Linked DNA regions of Homo sapiens. The protein of the gene in region 1 interacts with the protein of each later gene in a pairwise test. Each region holds a gene or a part of one and is shown on either strand. Other genes may lie near its edges.

Region 1 (7,108 bases):
AAGTTACCAAATCTCCCTAAGTCTGTATTCCTTCAGCCAAATAATGGGATGACAATCTGTTTCACTGGATGATTGTGAGGTTTAAATGTGGTCATGCATCAAAGTTCCTTATACAGCACTCAGTGCACAGCAAATATTCAGTGAATATTAATTATTTTATTATGACTGCTACCAGCATCTAACGACAGTCCTAAATACCATCTAAGTTTACCAAATGTCTCTCTGATTTACTGGTGACATTGGATAAAGGAAATGCTAAGAGAATGCAGTGCAGTGGAAAGAAGGGCGGGCTGGACATCAGCGTTCTGGTCTCCATCCGGGACTGGCCAGCAGGTGGCTCTGGAAAAGGGAGTCCCTCAGGGTCACGGTTTTCTATCTGTCCTGAGGCATGATCTTCAAAGTCCATTCTAGCTTCTGTCTATGACTTTAGATCTGACAGAAATCTCCCCGGAGGAACTCATGAGCCGTAAGTTAAACATGGTTTGAAATCACCCTTGAGCTCCTTGCTGATCATGCTTATCCATGTTGAAGGCTCATCCAGGAATAATAGATGGGTCTTGTGTGTGGTTTGAAAAGTTCACTTCTGGCCAGGTGCAGTGGTGAACCCTGTAATGCCAGCACTTTGGGAGGCCAAGGTGGAAGGATCGCTTGAGGCCAAAAGTTCAAGACCAGCCTGGGCAACATAGTTAGACTTTGTCTCTAAAAAATAAAAATAAAAATTAGCTGGGCATGGTGGTACACACCTGTGGTCTCAGCTACTCAGGAGGCTGAGGCGGTAGGATCACTTGAGCCTGGGAGGTGGAAGCTGCAGTGAGCTATGATTGTGCCAGTCCACTCCAGCCTGGGCAAGACCTTGTCTCAAAAGGAAAGTACACTTTTTATTTTCACAGGAGGTAATGATACATTCAAGTTGGTTACTTTACACAAGAAGAAATTTGTGTAATTTCTTACACAAAGAAATTACACAATTTTAGATAAATTTATCTTTATCTAAAATTATAATAAATAATTTTATTATTTAATAAACAATAAATAAATCTAAAACTCATTTATGTAAAATTTGTCACTATCTAAAATTTTCATAGTAAATTGTATGGAAAATATAATATCCCGTAGATGTGTCAAGACCAGAACATAGGTCAAACAGAGCTGAACTCGAGTCTCAGGTCTGCTGGTTGACTGCTAGTGACCTTGGGCAAGTCACTTACCCTCTCCAGTTCTTGTTTTCCTCACCTGAAAATGGGAACGATATTGTCTGCCTTATCGGGCTATGATGAGAATGGAAAGCTAGAACATGTAGACTGCCCTCCATAGTGCTTGGCATGGGGTCGTTCCTTTTCCCTCCCAGATGGAACACTGCATCCATCCCGATGGAGGTTTCTAGATGATGCTCCAGAGGATTCCAAGCAGAGAACATTTACAATTTCCATACATTACAAAAGTGTGAGCCTGCAAGGCAAGGTCTGGAGCTGGGAGCACATCTGGAGCAGTGGGTGGGTACTGAGAACCATATCCACACACACAAAGAAATGTGTTCGTTCAGAAGATCCAGCATCAATTCCTTCTTCCTAAGATTTGACAAGACTGGAGTCATTTCTTCACCAGGCCCATTTTATGAAAAACCCTGGGAAAACTGAGGTCCAGCAGCCAAAGATCTAACACAGCGGAATCAGGAAAAATGGTGGACAGGCCCCTGAAGGCACGTAAGGAGCAGGGAGCCTGGTGACCTTGGTGCACCCAATGCCTCCCTAACTAGAGTAATGGAACACCAATGTGGTTTACATTCATAATCCCTTGCATTTGAGAATTTTTAAATCTACTTAAATTTTCAAACAAGGGACACTCACACCACCTCCCACACTTATTAGCATGCTGTTTTATCACTCCGATATGTTCAAGGGACCCACCCCCATAAAAGATGGAAGATGAATCAGAAAACTCAACTGGAATTGCACTCCCTAGAGGGGCCCTGGGAGTTGTTTAGATATGCATAGTCTCACCTCAAGGCACATGCTGGGTACAAGATCCCTTATCACACCTCCAGTCCTGCTCAGCTTTTTAAGGGAGCATTTCCTGATATATAGGTCTTTAACTACCAGGTGTATTTGCCCACTGTCCACCTGTGCCTTCAAGTACCGTACTTAACAAGTTGGAACCGAGGGAATGGTACACTTCACATTTTGCAACTGTTATGCAAATAGAACTTCAATGAAATTCCTCAAACTGTTGACTCTAGAAACCGTGGGAGACAAAGGGTCAGTGTCTGACTTCACGAACGTTACCAACTTGAAAAATGAGATCTATTCCTTAGTGTGTGGGAGGAAGACATTTAAATCTGTAGTACCCTCAAAGCCTCACTCTAAACCTGGTCTGGCACTTTTCAATGTGTGTTCTTTGATATGGTAAGTAGTTAAGTATATCCCACCAGAGACCTTCCAAGGATGGGTTTTTTCCTCCATATGACTTCTCTCACTCTTTGCAGGAGAATAAAATAGAGTTTCAACTGAACTTTAAAGCTGTAACCTGATCTCAGAATCATGCACCATAAACAGCATTTGTGCTTTTCAAGATACTTTCAAATCCATATAGTTTTCCAAGATATTCCTAGTTGCCACATTGGGTGATTTAATTTTTTTTTTTTTTTTTTTTTTTTGAGATGGAGTCTCACTCTGTTGCCCAGGCTGGAGAGCAGTGGCGAGATCTCGGCTCACTGCAACTTTCACCTCCCAGGTTCAAGCGATTCTTCTGCCTCAGCCTCCCAAGTAGCTGGGATTACAGACACCTGCTACCACGCATGGCTAATTTTTGTATTTTTAGGAGAGACAGGGTTTTGCCACATTGGCCAGGCCGGTCTCAAACTCCTGACCTCAGGTGATCTGCCTGCCTTGACCTCCCAAAGTAATGGGATTTCGGGTGTGATCCACCGTGCCTGGGCTGGGTGACTTAATTTTAAATGTAGGGACATCAAGCAAAATGTTGCTGAGGAGTCTCTTTCGCAGCAAAAGTCCTGTGAAATCTGCAAGGCCATCTTTTTCATGGGTCCCCAAATGTTTCACAGGCAACTGGGCAATAATTGCATTTCCAGGAATGCCAAATGGAGCCAAATCCTTTTAATAGCTCACTGACATGCAGGTTATTCCACTGGGGACCAAAAGGAAGGAACTAGAGCTCTCAAAATATTTGATTCTTGATTTGTGCTCTTCACTGGATGATTCTATTTTCTTGAGAGCATTTTTAACGAAACAGCAGCAATCAGTGATTTCTTAGAAATGTGGCCCCTTTAAATACACTTCAGTGAGGCTAGCTCTTGTGTTTCCTGGACACTCTGTGTGTTCTGGACATACTGGAGGCACAGCATAAATATTAATGCTGGCCATTACAAAAAGAAAATGAAAAGACCCCATAAGGCAGCAGTGACCCTAGAAGCCCCAGAAGCCGTGTTGGAACTGTGACAAGGAAGGATAGTGACAAGATCTGAAAAAAGCAGCCCTCTTCCCACACTCAACACATGCAGTAAACCCAGACATGCAGGGCACCATTGTCTGAGCTGTCACTGGAGGGCTGGGAGGAGACAGGGGATGGGGCAATGGCAGCCTACCCACCCCTCCTCATCACTGTCCAGGGGCATTCAGGAAACACAGGCTTCCAATATGAGGCTGCCTTTTTTTCTCACAAGCCATGCTCACTAGGAATCCATAGCGGCCATCTGCACACCGACCTGGTGGTGTCTCAAGCTTCCAGGTGTGGTTTTGGGGGCAGGGTCCTTGAGGAAGGGGGTGCTGCTGACAGTGAGGTAACCTGAGGTCAGCTCTGGACAGGGCTGGGTGGAAGAAGAGTGTAGTGACTGCTGATCCCTGTCCTTTCTAGGAATTGGGGTTACTGGGTCAGAGAAACATCTCAATACCTTCCAGGCTTCCAAGGCTGGTTGTAAACCTGCTCCTTGATAAAAGAAACTACATCCAACCTTTAGGAGCAAGGTGGGGTAACATGGGAGCAGATCTTAGTTCATTTGTTTGTTTGTTTTTGCTTGCCTGCTTGCTTTTTTGTTTTTTCTTTTTCTTTTTTTTTTTTTTTTTGAGACAGGGTTGCACACTGTTGCCCAGGTTGGAGTGCAGTGGTGCAATCATGGCTCACTGCAGCCTTCACCTCCCAGACAGGTGATTCTCCCACCTTAGCCTCCCAAGTACCTGGGACTACAGGCATGCACCACCATGCCTGGCTAATTATTTTTTATTTTTTTGTAGATATGGGATTTTACCATGTTGCCTGGGCTAGTCTCTGAACTCCTGGGCCCAAATACTCTGCCCACCTGGGCCTCCCAAAGTGCGGGATTACAGGCATGAACCACCTCACCCAGCCTACAAATTCTTATATGACAATTTGAATCTCTGCTTGGATTTGTTTTATCCTCTCTTGTGCTTGTAACTCAAACTTTAATACTTGAAAAGTTTCATCAAAATTTAAATATACTTTTCTAAATCTGTGAGAAGGCTGTCTCCCAAGATGGTTTGTTACTGCACATCTTTTCCCCGGTAGATGGAAATATCCCTTCTCTATTCTCTTTCCCTTAGTCTTTCAAAAACTCAGTGAGGAGGAAGTGCTTGCTTCTAGCTTCTGGCGGTAGGCTACATTTCCCAGCCTGTCAGAATGGCCTCTCTGCAGGCTTCAACCCTTATGAGAAATAAAGCTGTCCTTTAGCAAAGTCATCAAGCTAAGTGTCTGTCAACAGATGATGATTAAAGTGTGGTACATATACACCATGGAATACTACTCAGCCATAAAAAGAATGAAATCATGCCTTTGGCAGCAGCATGGATGAACCTGGAGGCCATTATCCTAAGTGAAATGAGTCAGAAACAGAAAGCCAAAAACTGCATGTTCTCAGTTATAAGTGGGAGGTACACAGTGGGTATATGTGGACATAGAGAGTGGAATAATAGGCATTGGAGGCTCCAAAAGGTGGGAAGATGGAAGGGGATAAAGGATGAAATATTGCCTATTGGATATAATGTACATTACTCAGATGATGAGTACACTAAAAGCCCAGACTTCACCATTACGCAATATTTCCATGTAAGAAAGCTGCACTCGTGGTGGTGTATGCCTGTGGTCCCAGCTATTCAGGAGGCTGAGGAGAGAGAATTGCTTGAGCCTGAGAGTTCGAGGCAGTGAGCTGTGATTGCACCACTGCAGTCCAGCCTGGGCAACGAAGTGAGACTCTGTCTCTAGGAAAAAAAGAAAAAGAAAGAAAAAGAAAAGAGGTGGATGCAGACTGGAGATTTAGGAAAGCCTTTTCAGCTCCTTTCTCTTGCCAAGTCTTGTTTGTGGCTTTGGTGGGTGGTTTTGTTTGGGGGCCTGTCTTCTTTATTCCCTTTTCTTTTTTCTCTTAATCAAAGCAGTCTGTTCTGGTACTGCAGTGAAACAACTCTTTCCAGTTCCTTTGCATGGTGGTTGTGCACGTAGCCTCCAGGCCTGGGCTTGCATCAGTCATTTTGTCTATTCATACAAAGGGAAATTTAGGCTTTGTTCAGTTCATCTCCTACCAGGGCATGTACTTTCACAGCTACTGCCTGGGAAGCTTTGTGTGCATGAGATATCACCAGTCTGCCAGGCTACCAACTTGACTGTAAGTGGAGAGACTAACTGATGAAGCAATGACTGTGTGCCAGGAACTGTTCTAAGTGCTTTATGTGTATGAGCCAGTCAGCCCACTATTACTGTTCTTCTCCATTTTCAGGTGAGGAAACTGAGGCTCAGATTGTTGAGAAAATTGTCCCAAGCCGCACAGCTGGTCAGGGGCAGGCCAGCATTCAGTTTCCAGAGCCTGTGTTTTTAACCATTATGTGATGCCTCCAGGGTACATTATATTCTTTTGCATGAATGTGCAAAAATATGTCTTCATGCTTCTATTTCTGTTCATTTAACTTGTTTCAATTTTTTTCTATCACAAATAATACAGCAATGAATGTTTTTGCAATAATAGCTTATAATGATAGTTAACATTTGTCGAATCGCTAACAAAGTGATGGGCTCTGTTTCAAGTTCTTTATGCATCTTAATTAATTTAATCTTTGTAGCAATCCCACTATTATTTTTTACTTATTTATTTATTTTTTGAGACAGAGTCTCGCTCTGTCGCCCAGGCTGGAGTGCAGTGGCACGATTTTGGCTCACTGCAACCTCTGCCTCCCGAGTTCAAGCAATTCTCCTGCCTCAGCCTTCCAAGTAGCTGGGATTACAGGTGCATGCCACCATGGCTGGCTGACTTTTGTATTTTTAGTAGAGACGGGTTTCACCATGTTAGCCAGCTGGTCTTGAACTCCTGACCTCAGGTGATCCACCCGCCTCGGCCTCCCAAAGTGCTGGGATTACAGGTGTGAACCACTGTGCCTGGCAAATCCTACTATTATTACTATTTAACGAATTTAATCTTTGTAACAAACCTACTATTATTACCATTTAACAGAAGAGGGAAACGAGGCACAGGACAGTTGGCTACATATTTTGTTCCAGATTGCACAATTAGAAAGTGGCAGCTTAGCACCATAAGACATAGTGAGGAAAAAAGAAAAAAAAAAAGTGGATGGGCTGGCATTGAAACCCAGAGCTGGTACTCTTATGATAGTGTCTAGACAATATCTGTGACCACACCTCTGATTGTACCTCAAGAAGAAAGATTTTTAAAGTGAAATTACTAGAGCATAAGATATAAACATTTAAAAGGTTTTTGATACATCTTACAAAAGTGCTTTTCAATAACACTGATTGATCATGCTCATTTGCATTTCCATGAGCACTGTGTAATTGATCAAGGACTCTAAAAGTTAGATAAGCCACTGATAAATGGAGATGCCCCTCTAAGTCCCTGGGCAGTAAAACCTGACCAGCATAGCCTCCAATAACCTGCATAGTGTTGAGGAGAGCTTGGATTTAAGAGATTAAGAGGGTCAAACTCTTTTCTGTCCATTTTAAAATGCAAGTTTTATTTAAGAGGAACTATCTAATATGCTGAAGACAGTATCAGGTATCTGTAAAATTGCTTTTTGTAACTCAGAATCTTGGAACAAAAGAAACAATAAAGAAAATTTGGAACCAGAACTGTTTACCC
Region 2 (8,018 bases), on another chromosome or scaffold:
GTAGAGACAGGGTTTCACCATGTTGGCCAGGCTGGTCTCGAACTCCTGACCTCAAGTGATCCGCGGGCCTTGGCCTCAAGTGATCCTGCCTCAGCCTCCCAAAGTGCTGAGATTACAGGTGTAAGCCAGTGCACCTGGTGTAAATTTGGGTCTTTAATCCATTTTGAGTTAGTTTTTCCATATGATATAAGGGGTCAATTTTTTCATTTTCTTGCATGTAGAGCTCTAGCTTTCTCACCATCATTAGTTAAAGAGACTGTCCTTTCCCCATTGAATGGTCTTCATAATTTTTTTAAAAATCATTTGATCAGGTATGTGAAGATTTACTTCTAGGCTCTCCATTCTATTCCATTGGGCTGTCTGCCTTTATGTCAGTACCACACTTTTTTGATTACTATAGCTTGTGGTAAGCTTTAAAATCTGGACGAGTAAGACCTCCTCCTTTTTTAAGATTGGTTTTGGCTATTTAGGGCCTCTTGAGAATCCACATTGGTTTCTGAATAATTTTTTTTTCTAATTCTGCAAAAAAGAAATCCCATGGAGATTCCATTAAACCTTTAAATTGTTTTCAGTAGTATTGACATATTCAAAATATTAAGTCCTTCAGTCCATGAACACAAGATGTCTATTTATTTGTGTCTTTCTTTCAGCAACATTTTTTAGTTTTCAACCTATGAGTCTTTTGCTTCCTTATTTACTCCTAAGTATTTTATTCTTTTTGATATTATTGTAAATGGAATTATTTTCTTAATTTCTGTTTCAGAGTGCTCATTGTTAGTATATAGAAACTATTGATTTTTGCATATTGATTTTGAATCTTGCTACTCTGTTTATCTTGTTTATTAGTTTTAACAGTTTTTTGTGGCATATTTAGGATTTTCTACATATATTATCATGTTGTCTCTAGACAGAGATAGTTTTTTCTTTCCAATTTGGATGCTATTTATTTATTTACCTACATTCATTTATTTATTTATTAGACGGAGTCTCACTCTGTCACCCAGGCTGGAGTGCAGTGGTGCGATCTCGGCTCACTGCAACCTCCGCCTCCCGGGTTCAAGCGATTCTCTTGCCTCAGCCTCCCAAGTAGCTGGGACTACAGGTGCGTGCCACCATGCCCGGCTAATTTTTGTATTTTCAGTAGAAATGGGGTTTCGCCATGTTGGCCAGGCTGGTCTTGAACTCCTGACCTCAGGTAATCCACCTGCCTCAGCCTCCCAAAGTGCTGGGATTACAGGCATGAGCCGCTGTGCCCGGCCTATTTATGTATTTATTTATTTATTTTTCTAATTGCTTTGGCTAGGACTTCCAGTATTATATAAAATAAAAGCGGCAAAAGTGAGGATCCTTGACTTGTTCTTGATCTTAGAGGGAAAGCTTTCAATCTTTCACCATTGAATGTAATGTTAACTGTGGGCTTTTCCTGCATGGCCTGTATTATGTTGAGGTGGTTTTCTTGTATTTATAGTTTGTTGAGTGCTTTCTTCATTAAAGAGTGTTGAATTTTGTCAAATGCTTTTTCTGCATCAATTGAGATTATCGTCTCCTTTTACCATTTCTTGAAGAGAATAGTGAAATAACTCCCATTACCATAATCATACTAGTCTTTGTGCTGTGATGTTATGCACAAAATGGTGCTTCATAAAGCATTTGATAATTGTACGACAGTCTTATGTGTGGGAAGATAAGTAAAATTTAGTCATGTAAAAGTCATTATGCAGTTATTGATTTGGCAAAAAAAAAAAAAAAAAGAAAAAAAAGAAAAAAGTCACTAGTCCAATAAAAAGGCATTTGCTTTGAAACTTTTCTTGAACCTCAAACTAGCTAGTAAAACTTGACAAAGTGGAGCCGTGTGTGGTGGCTCAGGCCTGTAAGTCCAGTACTCTGGGAGGCCAAAGTGGGAGGATCCCTCAAGCCCAGGATCAGCCTGGGCAACATAGAGAGACCCTGCCTCTACAGGCGTGGTGGTACGTGCCTGTGGAAAAAAGTGCCAGTTTTTCCAAGGGGTTGTATGAACTTGCACTCTTAGCAGCAGTGTATGAGAGTTCAAGTTGCTCTTTGCTAGCATTTGGTATTATCTATCTTTTTCATTTAAACTATTCTAGTGATTACAATAACACTCTGTTGTGGTTTTAATATGAAATTCCCTTCTAGTCAGGGAAGTTAAACACACATATTGCAAAATTTATTGGCTGTTCAGGAATCACCTTTTGCGAAGTGTCTATTCCAGGTTTTTCTAATTTTTTTTTTGTAAGATTGTCTGCTTCTTCTTCAGTGTTATAATAAAAGTTCTCTATAAATTCTACATGTGAGTCCTTTGTCAGATATATGTATTACAGTTCTCTTTTGCCTTTCTGTGGCTTTCTTGTTCACTCTCTAATGGTATCTTTTTTTTTTTTTTTTTAATTTGAGATGGAGTCTCACTCTGTCACCCAGGCTTGAGTGCAGTGGCGTGATCTTGGTTCACGGCAACCTCCACCTCCTGGATTCAAACAACTCTCCTGCCTCAGCCTCCTGAGTAGCTGGGATGACAGGTGCATGCCACCATGCCTGGCTAATTTTTGTATTTTTAGCAGAGACAGGGTTTCACCATGTTGGCCGGGCTGGTCACGAACTCCTGACCTCAACTGATTCTCCCATGTTGGCCTCCTAAAGCGTTGGGATTACAGGTGTGAGCCACTGTGCCTGGTCTCTAATGGTATCTTTTGATGAATAGATATTCTTAGCATTGATGAAGGCCAATTTCTCATTTTTGTTTTTCTTTTAGTGTATTCTGTAACCTAAGGATCTTGAATTAATCCAAAGCCATTAAGATATAATTTTCTTCTAAAAGCTTCATTATTTACCTTTTATATTTAGATTGCAGTCCATCTGGAATCAATTTTGTGAATGGTGTGAGACTGGGGTCAATATACATTATTTTCCCCTTATGACTTCTCAAATGACCCAGCACTATTTGTGAAGACCATCCTTTCCCTACTGTATCTTTTTTTTTTTGTTTGTTTTTTTTGAGACCAAGTTTTGCTCTGTCGCCCAGGGTGGAGTGCCTTGGCACAATCTCGGCTCACTGCAACCTCCGCCTCCTCCATTCAAACGATTCTCCCGCGTCGGCCTCCTGAGTAGCTGGGACTACAGGCCGAGTGCCACCATGCCCGGCTAATTTTTGTATTTTTCGTACAGGCAGGGAGTTTCGCCATGTTGGCCAGGCTGGTCTCAAACTCCTGATCTCAAGTGATCCGTAGGACTCGGCCTCCCAAAGTGCTGGGATTACAGGCCTGAGCCACCATGCCCAGCCTATCTTCGCCAGTTTTAATGCTAAAAACTATTCCATTCTATGGCACTCCCTTAACTTAACTTAGCCATTTTTCCATCTGGGTATTTGGGTTGTTTTCAGATCTCTGCTATCATCAAACAGGAGGAATACTTTGTATGGACATCAAGTCATTCTTCTGCAATTATTAACCCAGAAGTGAAATTTCTAAGCTAGAAAATATTTGCTTTTTTGGAAAATTAATAAATTATATTCAAAACTCAAATAATGTAAAGAGACCCAGTGAAAAGTCTGCCTCCTATTCTGTCCCCCTGTCCTCCCAGTCCCTCTTCCACCAGGTAACCACACTCAGGAAATCTTGTGTATCTTTCCAGATATCTTGTAATGGATGTACAAGCATTATTTATATTCTTTTCTCCTTTTGTTTACACAGCCAGTGGTACTCTATGCATTCTGTCCTGCATCTTGCCTTTTTCATTTAACAACCTATTTTAGAAATCTTCCCATTGCTGTACATAAAAAGATTTAATACCTCATTTGAAGGAGGCACCACAATGATGGACATCTGTGTTGTTTCCAATAGTTTGCCGTTGAAACAACGTTGCAATGGAATAACTTTGTACATGTCATTTCACATGTGTAAAAGGTGTCTATTGGGGAAATTGCTAGAAGTGGCTTTGCTGAGTCTGAGGGTCTGTGCATTTGTGATTTGATCAACATCGTCAAATTATACTGCCACCAGCAATGTATGAAAGTGCTTGTTTTCCCGTAGCTTGGTCAATGAACTATTAGACCTGAGATCTTTAGCCATCCAATATGTGAAAAACTGTAACTTTAGTTTGCATTTGTTTATTGTATGTGAAGTTGAGCATCCTTTCAGAAGTTTAAGGCCTACTCTGTCCTGTCTGGGTCAGAGTATGCCCTTTTATTTTATTTTTAGTTTTAGTTTTTGAGACAGAGTCTCGCTCTGTCACCCAGGCTGGAGTACGGTGGCGCAATCTCGGCTCACTGTAACCTCTGCCTCCCGGGTTCAAGCGATTCTTCTGCCTCAGCCTCCTGAGTAGCTGGGATTACAGGAGCACGCCACCACGCCCGGCTAATTTTTTTTGTATTTTCAATAGAGACGGGGTTTCACCATGTTGGTCAGGCTGGTCTCGAACTCCTGACCTGATGATCCGCCCGCCTCAGCCTCCCAAAGCGCTGGGATTACAGGCGTGAGCCACCGTGCCCGGCCCTCAGAGTATGCCCTTTTAAAAATCTGTGGGTACACGTAGCCAACTGACATTTTAAGACAAGAGGACCCACAGACCCTCTTTCCACAACGCAGCCCGGGACCTGTCTGTCTGCATCAATAGTGCCTGGCTTTCGGAGCTAGAAAACAGCACCTGCGCGTGGTCGAAGCCTGAACCTCTACTTACAGGTGCGGAGCTTCCGGCTTGCCAGGGGAAGGAGCCCGCCCCTCCCGGCTGCGTGCACCAGCGCAGCTAGTCACGTGACGCCGGGGGCGGGGGCAGATAGGAGGTGCCTGCTGTCATCGTTCCGTGGGCCCTGCTGCGGGCACGCTCTCGGCGCATGCGTTTTTTATGCGGGATTAAGCTTGCTGCTGCGTGACAGCGGAGGGCTAGGAAAAGGCGCAGTGGGGCCCGGAGCTGTCACCCCTGACTCGACGCAGCTTCCGTTCTCCTGGTGACGTCGCCTACAGGAACCGCCCCAGTGGTCAGCTGCCGCGCTGTTGCTAGGCAACAGCGTGCGAGCTCAGATCAGCGTGGGGTGGAGGAGAAGTGGAGTTTGGAAGTTCAGGGGCACAGGGGCACAGGCCCACGACTGCAGCGGGATGGACCAGTACTGCATCCTGGGCCGCATCGGGGAGGGCGCCCACGGCATCGTCTTCAAGGCCAAGCACGTGGAGGTGAGGCTGGACCGCGGCCGGCAGCCTGGCGGGGGTGTGCCCCCGCCACCCTCCGGCTAACGCTCTAAACTGTTTCGGTTCCCTTTTTACATCCAGTACAGTTTTTAAAACCTACTCATATTCTAAACCTACTTTGGGCCGTTGCGCTTCCCTCCGCACAGCTGGCTTGGTCCCCTACCCCAGCGGCTGGGTCCCAGGCTAGTCCTAGACCCCCGAGGAGGGCCTCTGGCCGAGCCGGGGGCGCGTGTCTCTCTCTCAACCACCTTCCCCTCACCCACCTTCATCTCTCTTTCCCAGCCGAGGGTGGGCTGGCAGTGTCTGCCTTCTATCCTGCAGACTGGCGAGATAGTTGCCCTCAAGAAGGTGGCCCTAAGGCGGTTGGAGGACGGCTTCCCTAACCAGGCCCTGCGGGAGATTAAGGCTCTGCAGGAGATGGAGGACAATCAGTATGTGAGTAGGGGAGGGGGGGCATGGTATTCTCACCCTCAGTCGCTCGTTCCCACTTCTTTGTGCCTTCATTTTCCCAGCTACGCCTTCACCAGCTTTCAGGGATTTCCTCCCGCTGTCACTCACACACACTGCTCATTCATCTGCCTCCTTACCCCCTTTTGCCCTTTTTTGTCCACTTGTTCACCTTTATTTACCTATTTCTTTCATTTCTCACACATTCACTCTCATTTGCCTACTTATTTCTTAATGTATTCATTCATTCACCGACTTTTTTTCTCAAAACATGTAGTGATTTATAATGTAACTAGCACCTATTGAGCTCCCGATGTGTTCTGCAGGCATTATATACATTGTCATTTTGAGACCTCTTTACTACTGTACAAGGCAGGTTTCCAGATCTCTGTTTCTCAGGTGAGAGGAGGAGGTTATGTCACCAGCTCTTGGGCCCTCCGTTAGTCAGTAGAGGGTTTGGCCCAGGTTTGATTGAGAGTCCATTCTTCCCTTGGGACCTCCCATAGGCTCTACCCTGTGTTGGGCACTGGTGACACAGAGAAACCAGCTCCAGCCCAGCTCCTGAGGACTTAAGTGTGCTAACAAGAGACAGAGGCAACAGGGCCCACCTAGTGTGGTTCGTGCTGTGATAGGGTACCGGGAGGGGCTGCTGGAACACGAAGAGGGGCATCTTTCACCCCTAGTGTCATTACTCTTTTGGTGCTCTCTCTCACCCATGTCGAAATAGGGAATGTATTTGACTCCCTGGAGAGTTAACAGGGTTGGGTCTCTGTGATCTGGAGATATGCATGATATATTGGATGACAAAAGCATGTTATAAAATTTTGTGTCATCTGGGTTTTGTTTGGAAATATTATATATGTGAATGTGTATTTGTGTGTGCCATATCTGTTGTAAAGTCTGGTAGAATACACTCTAAGATTGACTGTAGGATTTTTCTTTTGTTCTTTTTCTGTTGGATTTTATGTCTTACCTGAATGTGTGCATGTGTTTTGATCTGTTAAATGGTTGTGTACTACCTGAAAAATCCGAAAACAGCAATCAGGCCATTTTGATTTTTTGAGGAAGATAAAAGGGCTTCCAGACAGCCATGTGTGGGATAGGTGGAGAGATCCATAAGGAAGCTGGTGATATGGTCCCTACATCCAGTTGGTCAGCAATTCTGAAGGTTCTAACTTTAAAACATACTCTAGATTTGCTCCTTGCCCAAGTCATCATCACCACTCATCAGAATGACAGTGGCAGCCTCCCCACTGCTCTCCATAGCCACAGTCCGGAGGGCTTTGTCAAAAGTGTAAGTTAAGTCATCGGCTCCCCTGCGTAAAAAGCCCTGGTGGCTTCTCTTCACACTTAGAGCACTATCACCATGTGCCCACCTCCAGCTGGCCTCTCCCTTTTCTCTCATTCAACACAACTTCTTAGGCATCTCTCCAGTGACCAGCACCTATCTAGGGTCCAGGAGCACAGAACAAGGCAGACACATCCTTCCCTTAAACAATCTCATGTACTCACATCCCTCTAGCCTCCTTCTGTGCTGGCGTTAGGGCCTTGCACTTGCTTTTCTTCCTGCTCAGAGCTTTATCCCAGATCCCCACAAACTGGGTCCTCATCTAGCCCCACCCCACCTAAATAAAGAAGTATCCTTTTCTCCACTCACAGAATCACACTATCCTCTTCTAGTTCTGTTGATTTTTTTTCTTTTTTTGATACAGGGTCTCACTCTGTCACCCAGGCTGGAGTGTAGAAGTGCGATTTTGTCTCCCTGTAGTCTCAACCTCCTGGGCTCAGGTGATCCTCCCACCTCAGCTTCCCAAGTAGCTAGGACTACAGGCACGTGTCACCATGCCTGGCTAGTTTTTTGTATTTTTTGTAGAGACAAGGTTTCACCATGTTGCCCAGGCTGGTCTCAAACACCTGGGTTCAAGCCATCCGCCCACCTTGGCCTCTCAAAGTACTGGGATTACGGGCATGAGACGTCATGCCCAGCCCCCTTGTATTTTGGTTCCTGTACTTACAGAATCTGAATATATCCCTTTTATTCATTTATTTGTTAAACTGTTTGTCCTTTGTGCTGTGAGTTCATTAAGAGTCCTGTCTCTCAGCTCACTCTCTGTGTAGCCTGGCTCCTCTGACAGTACTGGCCTCAGTGTTTGTGATGTGTCTGTAGCTGTCCCAGCACTGGGAAAGGTGGGATTCCTGGTGTCCTTTCCTTGGTGCTGGGATTCGGTGGTTCTAGAGGAAACAGGAGGAGACCTGTCCATCTCATGTGTGACCATCCAGATGATTTTCAGGCGGGTAGGCTGGGTGGGCGGACCAGATGGTGCCACTAAATGACCTTTTTTAGACCTTTTAGTGTTCATGGAGAATTAGAGTGGG
Region 3 (7,108 bases), on another chromosome or scaffold:
TGTATATCCCTTTGTCCACCCCAGTTCCCCAAAGGTCAGGTTGGTCTTAGTCCAAACCTGGTGATGTGGGCCTAAACTATATTCAACCCTGGCCCACTACTCTGACCTGATGTGGTCTGGGTGGACAGTAGCTGCAGGTGGCAAAGATGGTTCCAGCCATTTAGATTTCCCAGAAAACAAACATAACCTAGTAAAACTCCAGCTCCCACCCAGTCTCTAAGAATCAAAAAACCAGGAGTGATCTGGGTATGGATACCCACATTCCGATTGAAAACCTACCCCAGCAGGGCTGTTCCAAGCCATGCCACACCCTTAGGAGTAGGCTGGGGCCACACCAGTTGTCTGCAACCCAAGGTTTACAGCCAGGGGCACACAACTTGGAGGGAAGAGCAGCCCTTTCTTTTCTTCATTGTGGTTTTCCATAGGCCCTCTCTGTCCTTCTCCGTTTTGATTCATTGACCCTAAGAGTAGCATTACTTTCATATGCAGCATTAGGTGAATGTCAAGCATTTCCAGAGACCTCCCTAAGAAGTTGTTGTTAGCATTCTTCTGAAGAAGCTGTAGAAATGAAGTAGCAGAGACTTTAGACTAGTGACAAAAGCAACTACCTAACAAAAGTTAGGTATTGACTGACTGAAGGGCTAGGCCATAGCCCAAAATATTACTTTCCTGGGGCAGTGGTTCTTTAACATTAAACATTCAGCTCAAGCAAGCAGTAACCCAAATTTTTCTCACGTTTGTCAGTTGTTTGATAAAATGACTTAACAGACTCAGACCTAATGGACTGTGGTTCTCCTCATTAATGCTATGATCTCATTTGCCCTGGGATATGCCACCATCAGCAGAGAAACCATGCGTTAACTCTTGAAATGCCAAAATGAGTAGGCATTAAATACCTTGCCCTATCTGACCACACTATTTAATGTTTTTATCTTAAATTTAAAAAACTGAAATCTGAAACTGTATGATAGTCAGTAGGCCTAAAACTCCCCCTTGACTTTGAGAATTTGAAGGGATTCCCTTCCATCCTGAAGTCTACTTTCTTGTCATTTAAGGGTGAGAGAAGGGAAGCTTCTGTGCCTTTCTAGAAATTAACAAAGAACCTGTTGGGTCCTAGACCAGAAATCCAGCACGTTATCCTAGCATGAAACTCCCTTTTAAAAAGTGAACACCCAAAGAGATGTTACAAATGAAGATATAGCCCCTTCAGCATCTCTGGAGACCAATACCACAATAAGGAATAATAACAACCTAGGAATAAAGGCAGGAGTTTTTACATAGGATGCACGATATCCAAAGGGACTTTATAAACACAAGCCATTGAGTCTTAAGACCTGACACATGGCAAGGATAGGACATGTGAGAGAAAATGGATGGACGGTTGAAGAAAAGAGGGGAAAAGACCATGCAGTTGAACTAACTTCTTTTTAATTTCAAACAGGTATTTTTTGCATCCGTGCGATCTGGAGGAAGTAGCCAAGTGTTTTTCATGACCCTCAACAGAAATTCCATGATGAACTGGTAACAGAAGAGCACTTGGCACTTATCTTCATGGCGTTATTTCTAATTTAAAAGAACATAACTCATGTGGACTTATGCCAGTCTAGAGGCAGAATCAGAAGGCTTGGTTGAACATATCGCTTTCCCTTTTTCCTCTCCCTCCGCCCCTCCCAGTACAGTCCATCTTTCAATGTTGCAGCCTGGTTGAGAAGGAGAGAAAAAGGTGGCAGGAATTTCCAGGAGATCCCCAAGAATGCTGCCTTGTCTGTGGACAAAGATGGACCATGTGCCCTTCGGAATTAGGGATAGAAACAAATATTGTGTGCTCTTAACGATTAAGCTGTGTTATGGTGGGTTTTCAGGTTTTTACCTTTTTTCTTTACCCCTTTACTCTGCAAGAATGGGGAAAGAATGCATACTGCGAAAATGAGTCTTTTAAATTCTGTCTGCCTACTAGTTTTAAGTATATGGTATGTTGTAAAATTTCCAATGATGAGAGACAGCACAATAAATGTACCTTATCTCCTTAGGCTGAAGGCCATAACTACATAGTGGAGTAATTTAAGAACTCTCTTGCCTTCACCAACCCAAAAGGTTGCTTTTTGATAGCAACTGGCTAATGAATTTTTAAAAAGAGAAGAAAAATACTAGTTTTCCCCTCTTTTGGGAAATAGATTTTAAATGGCTAAACTACTAGCCTTAAAACTACTAGTCTAATAAAATCAACTACCACTTTTGTGAATCTGACAGGCCACATTTTTATATGGCCCTTTACAGAATGGAGTGTGTTGAACAGGATACTAACGCCATTGAGTTGAGCTGGCCTAGCGATGGAGGGACACTCTAACACAACTTTCCCTCAGCTATTATGCAACAGATCAGGGAAAAAGATGGGATGACAGATGGGGTCAGACAGAAAGAGCTTCTGGGAAACAAGCTTACATAGTCTTTTTTAAAATGCACAAAGCCTCCCAGCTAAGAGGTCACTTGGTTTGGGCTTCATTAGGACTGAGACTTTGTTGAGTTCTTTCTGGGACTTGGAGAGTGGATGATATTCAGGCTCTGAACATTCCCAGCGCTCTCCCGAGGGTGCCACTTTCTCAAGATGAAAACTGTGACTGAAAAAATTAATAATAAATGTTTCTGAGCTGCCTGTGTTCTCCCTGTGTGGGTGAGAGAAGGGACTAGACTCCTAAGCCTGCCTCAGATACAAGAGGCATCATTGGCTCCAATTTTAGAGAACTTGAAAGCAAGGCTTTGGACAAAATTTTGAGACCCTAATCACTTTACCTTCCTCCAAATTACCCAACATACGGTAAACAACATTTGTGCAGAAGTATGTATGTATTTAGTTCAGGTTGACTTGTGTCCTTATAAACTCTTACTCAAATGATTTGAACTTTTATGCGACTGGGATTTTTTTTTTCCAAAGCTACAAGCATGGCCGCCTGTGGTATCGAGGTGTTGCAAACAATATCTGTGTTGCGCTTCCTGTTTTAACCTACCTCGTTTTGTTTGTTTTTGTTTCACTGTTCATCACAGCAGTGTTATCTCCAGGAGACATATAGAGAGCTCAACCGGCAATCTCAGGTGCATTTAACATTTTTAAAACGAAACAGTAGTTGACCAAATTTTTCTTCTTAAAAAATTGGAAGTGGGGGGAATCCAATGACAAAAACTAATGTGGCTTGTTTCTGGAGAAAATAATTACTGTAAATGGAACAACAACAACAAAAAAAACTACGATCTTACTGACTTTGCCTAAATACACAAGCAGCTGATGTACTATTAATGAGAACGAAATACACATTAGGAAAATGGAGCCATTTCAATCTAGTGGTTTGGGCAAGATGGGGAAGAGAAGGGGAAACATTCTAGTTTCTGGATTACATTATTATGCCCCTCCTGAAAAGGTGGTTGTCATTTGCATTTATTTAAAGCAGGTAATATGCAGGAATGTAACTGAGGATTATCTTCAGGCAATCAGCAAGATATCCTCCTCATGGTCCCTTTAGCTCTCAAAAGCAATGAAATCCTCCTGTTCTCATTTTTACTGCTGTGGTTGTGCTGCTGAACAATACTATCTTCTCAAATTCCATGCCACAAATTCAGCAATAACTTTTTGGATTGAATTTAACAACTACTGTAATTGGATGCTGATGTGGACAAAATATATTGATTTCGATTTCACTCCCGAATGTGATTGCCACCAGCTCTTTATATTGCTGCTGTGGTATTTTAAACCAGAAGCTTCTTTAAATTATGTTGCAAACTGATCTTTGTTTTTATGTTTTGTTTTGTTTTTATTTCTAAGTGATAAGTTTGAAACACACAGCTTTAAATGATTTTTTTATTGTGGGATTTTGGGTACAGTTAAGAAATAAAAGGGAATCATTGTGTTTAAACATAAGGTAGTTTGTGAATGTATTTTTTAAAATCTAGAGTCATTGAAACAAATCATAAGAAAACAATATTAATGCAGTCTTGTTTACAGTATGTACAGTGACATAACATAGAACATGAGCTTTTCTGGTGCCAACAACAATAAAACACACGTTAAACATCAAGCCATGCCTTTTATATTTTTGTACTAATATTTTACACTGAGTACAAGGCAAATCCAAATTTAAATGGGCCCCCCAGAAATCTGTGCTCTTTAAAAGACAGATATTTAAAGAATTCACTGAAGCTTTTATCTTCAAAAATAAATTTTCCTCCAGCAAGACAGACCCCAGCCCTGACATAAGGAGGCCTAGAACATGCAGAATACGTCAGAATGGTGTCCTTGTGGCTCATCCAAACTTTCTGAATTGCCTTAATTCTTTTTGGGGGTAGGGGAGGAACGGTTGCTTTTCATCCATTTTTATAGCATCTCAACAAAAAAAATCTTCAGTTCTGATCTTTTTATAGGTGATTTTGTCTCTAGAAATTGGCTCATTTTATTTTTATTTTCCTACAAAGAGAAACTGGAGAAACTGAGCCCTCCCCTCAGAGTAAGTTTCACTAGATCTGCCAGTTCTTACTGCTCTAAATTAATAATCATCCAGTAAAATCTACTGAGCCTGCCCACACCATAGTCTGGGTCTGGGGTCTGGCAGGTGACCATCATTCCTGGGTGCCAGTCAAAGATACTGTAGCATGGATTCCTGCATCCAGTGGTGGTAGGAATGGATGACCAGTGAAGTTCCTTCAAATAATGAGGCTCTTCCCCCTGCCAGTTCCAGCCAGACCACTGTCATAACACACAATGCAAATGAAGACAGCCTTCACTAAGTTCCACATAAAATTGAACAGCTCTATTTTAGATAGATCTCATTATTTTTCTTGGAGACTTCTAAACAATCCTTCAAGAAGACCTAGAACTATTATTTTTATTAAACAGGGTATATTAAGTTATGGGTGAAATCTCACAAGGTCACCTGGACAGGGGCTCCATTTTTCTAACACTTTGACATTGTTTTCTAGGGTGCACTCCTAATATACTTTGCATCAAGTACATGTTTTTTAAAAACACCTTAGTTCCTGGTTGTCAAAACCTACTAACAATTTTTGTCTGTTCTTGTGACTCATTGGTAATTGGTGTCTCTGGTCCCTCCTGTCCAGTAGATTATTAGAAAGATGTGAAATTCCAGCCAGAACCATTTTGGTTTTATCCACTGCCAGGAAAGGAAGGGGCTAAAGTCTCACATTCCACGAAGCTTTTAAAAAAATGCTTTCCCTACTACTATGTGTACCAGTTCCCGTCACTGTATTCTTGAAACGTGGAAGAGCTCTTTGTGTTAACAGTGTGTGCTGTCTTTGAAAGTCTGCTTGAACAGGCATCACTTGCATTTGTGCTGATTGCTTTAAGATGTAAGATGTGCTACATTATTTTTAAGAAAAAAAATAGTTATTGATAAAACTTTTAATTTTAACCTACTGCAGGAAAACATGAGAAAATCCACAGCATGCTGATAACAATTCTGAATGATGCTACTATGCTCTTTATATTCCAGAATCACCACTGGTACCATGTTCTGATCATTTCAACAGTCTCTAACTTGTTAGTTACCTTTTAGTTCATTCTTCAAAATTTAAATCTAACCAAATCAAGCAAAACATAACCAACCAACCAAAAACTGACCTCCCCTGAGACTACATAGTTGTAACATAAATCTAAAATCCAAAAGTCTAAATTTGATTTAATTTACCTGCTAATATTTCTCATAAATGCCACTATATCTCCTTGGTCACTATATATCAGGAACCCTAAAGTAAGCTGTCCTTTCATGGATCTTAAATAAATTGGGTGTAAAATTGATCACTTTTCAGGAGTCCCAGCAAAGAAGAAAACCTCTTGAGAATTTGCAAGTTCAAAACTGACAATTTGTATATTCCTACCAAACATTTTCTAGGTTGTTTTTATTTCTACACCATTATTCTGGGAATTCTTCCATTGATAACTAGAATATTCAACAGTTTGCTTAGCATTAAACAGTGTGAGATCATAACCCTGTGCTTTGGACTTTATTCTTCTAGACCTGCCATTCCAGGAAGTGCCAGAATATACCAAAATAAAAATCCCCATAAAAGCATTTTTAAACAAAAATCCCTGGGTAATGTTTGAGTTATTTTAAATCTAGATCAAAATCTTGGATTCTTCTGAGTCCATGATGACAAATGTTTGGATGAAAAGTAGAAAATACAGTTAAAAATAAAAATGTCCTAAAGTTTACAGATTTTTGAGTTTGTGTACATATCTTCAAACTCACTCCTTGCATGATAGGGTTTGGTTTTAATGGTTTATTTTTATCAGCACCAAGTTGCATTGCACTATTGAGGCTGAGCAAATGCTGGTGGAAAGGTGAGTTTTCATTTCTGGCAATGGATCATTATTTGTACACTGTAAATATCATGCCCAGCTACCCCTTTCCCTTATCTCTTCCCCTGGGATAAATGTTAAGGAATAGTAATACTTATTATGGTATGTTTAAGAAACCTTGGACATTACCCTGAATCAAAACTTCAAATGTTAGGTGGCAGCAGGAAACAAAAGATTACAGCTTGAATGAAATTTTAAAATTGAATGTTGTAAAACTATTTTTGAACGTTTTAGCTGCCTTATTTATGTTAATATAACTGTAGAGAGATGCCAAATGTATAATATCAGAAGGGAAAACTACGATTTTGCTGTGCCTACAATTGTTTACATTTTTTAAATCTCCAGTTTTCAAAAGTATTTTAAATTGTCAAACATTTGCTAAAACTGGATTATAACCTCACCTGAGAATGAGAGAAGAAAATCTTCCTGGCATATTTTCCAGTCTGAAACTTTTGGTTACTTTCAGGTATTTTTTTTCTTGCATACAAAAATCATTGAGAAAGTACTTTCTACAGTTATTCTAAGCAGTCATTAAAAATGCTTTGATAGGTTTCCCCACATGGTAACTACCATGTCCTGGAATATAATATGCTATCTTTGTCAAAATATGAATAATAAAACATTAATCGTAGGATGCCTCCTTGTTCCTCATTGCCACTTCCAAACTATTCTCCTTTCCTCCTCCTGAACACTCATTGTTTTGAAGCTGTTGACATCAGCCTCCCAAGTCCCTACATTACCCTCTTT

The links.
Region 2: the proteins of TRIM2 (region 1) and CDK20 interact in binary tests that used the Homo sapiens proteins (3 or more experiments, as listed by UniProt).
Region 3: the proteins of TRIM2 (region 1) and TNIK interact in a two-hybrid assay, tested with the Homo sapiens proteins (2 studies listed by BioGRID and IntAct).

The regions. Positions count from the first base shown.
Region 1 is NC_000004.12:153,207,430-153,214,537, forward strand, and holds part of TRIM2 (tripartite motif-containing protein 2), read left to right. Parts: intron 1-7,108. UniProt on the Homo sapiens protein: UBE2D1-dependent E3 ubiquitin-protein ligase that mediates the ubiquitination of NEFL and of phosphorylated BCL2L11. Plays a neuroprotective function. May play a role in neuronal rapid ischemic tolerance.
Region 2 is NC_000009.12:87,971,534-87,979,551, reverse strand, and holds the start of CDK20 (cyclin-dependent kinase 20), read left to right. Parts: upstream 1-5,018; 5' UTR 5,019-5,105; coding exon 5,106-5,180; intron 5,181-5,312; exon of another isoform or gene 5,313-5,382; intron 5,383-5,477; coding exon of another isoform or gene 5,478-5,516; coding exon 5,517-5,630; intron 5,631-8,018. UniProt on the Homo sapiens protein: Required for high-level Shh responses in the developing neural tube.
Region 3 is NC_000003.12:171,058,298-171,065,405, reverse strand, and holds the end of TNIK (TRAF2 and NCK-interacting protein kinase), read left to right. Parts: intron 1-1,441; coding exon 1,442-1,525; 3' UTR 1,526-6,992; downstream 6,993-7,108. UniProt on the Homo sapiens protein: Serine/threonine kinase that acts as an essential activator of the Wnt signaling pathway. Recruited to promoters of Wnt target genes and required to activate their expression. May act by phosphorylating TCF4/TCF7L2.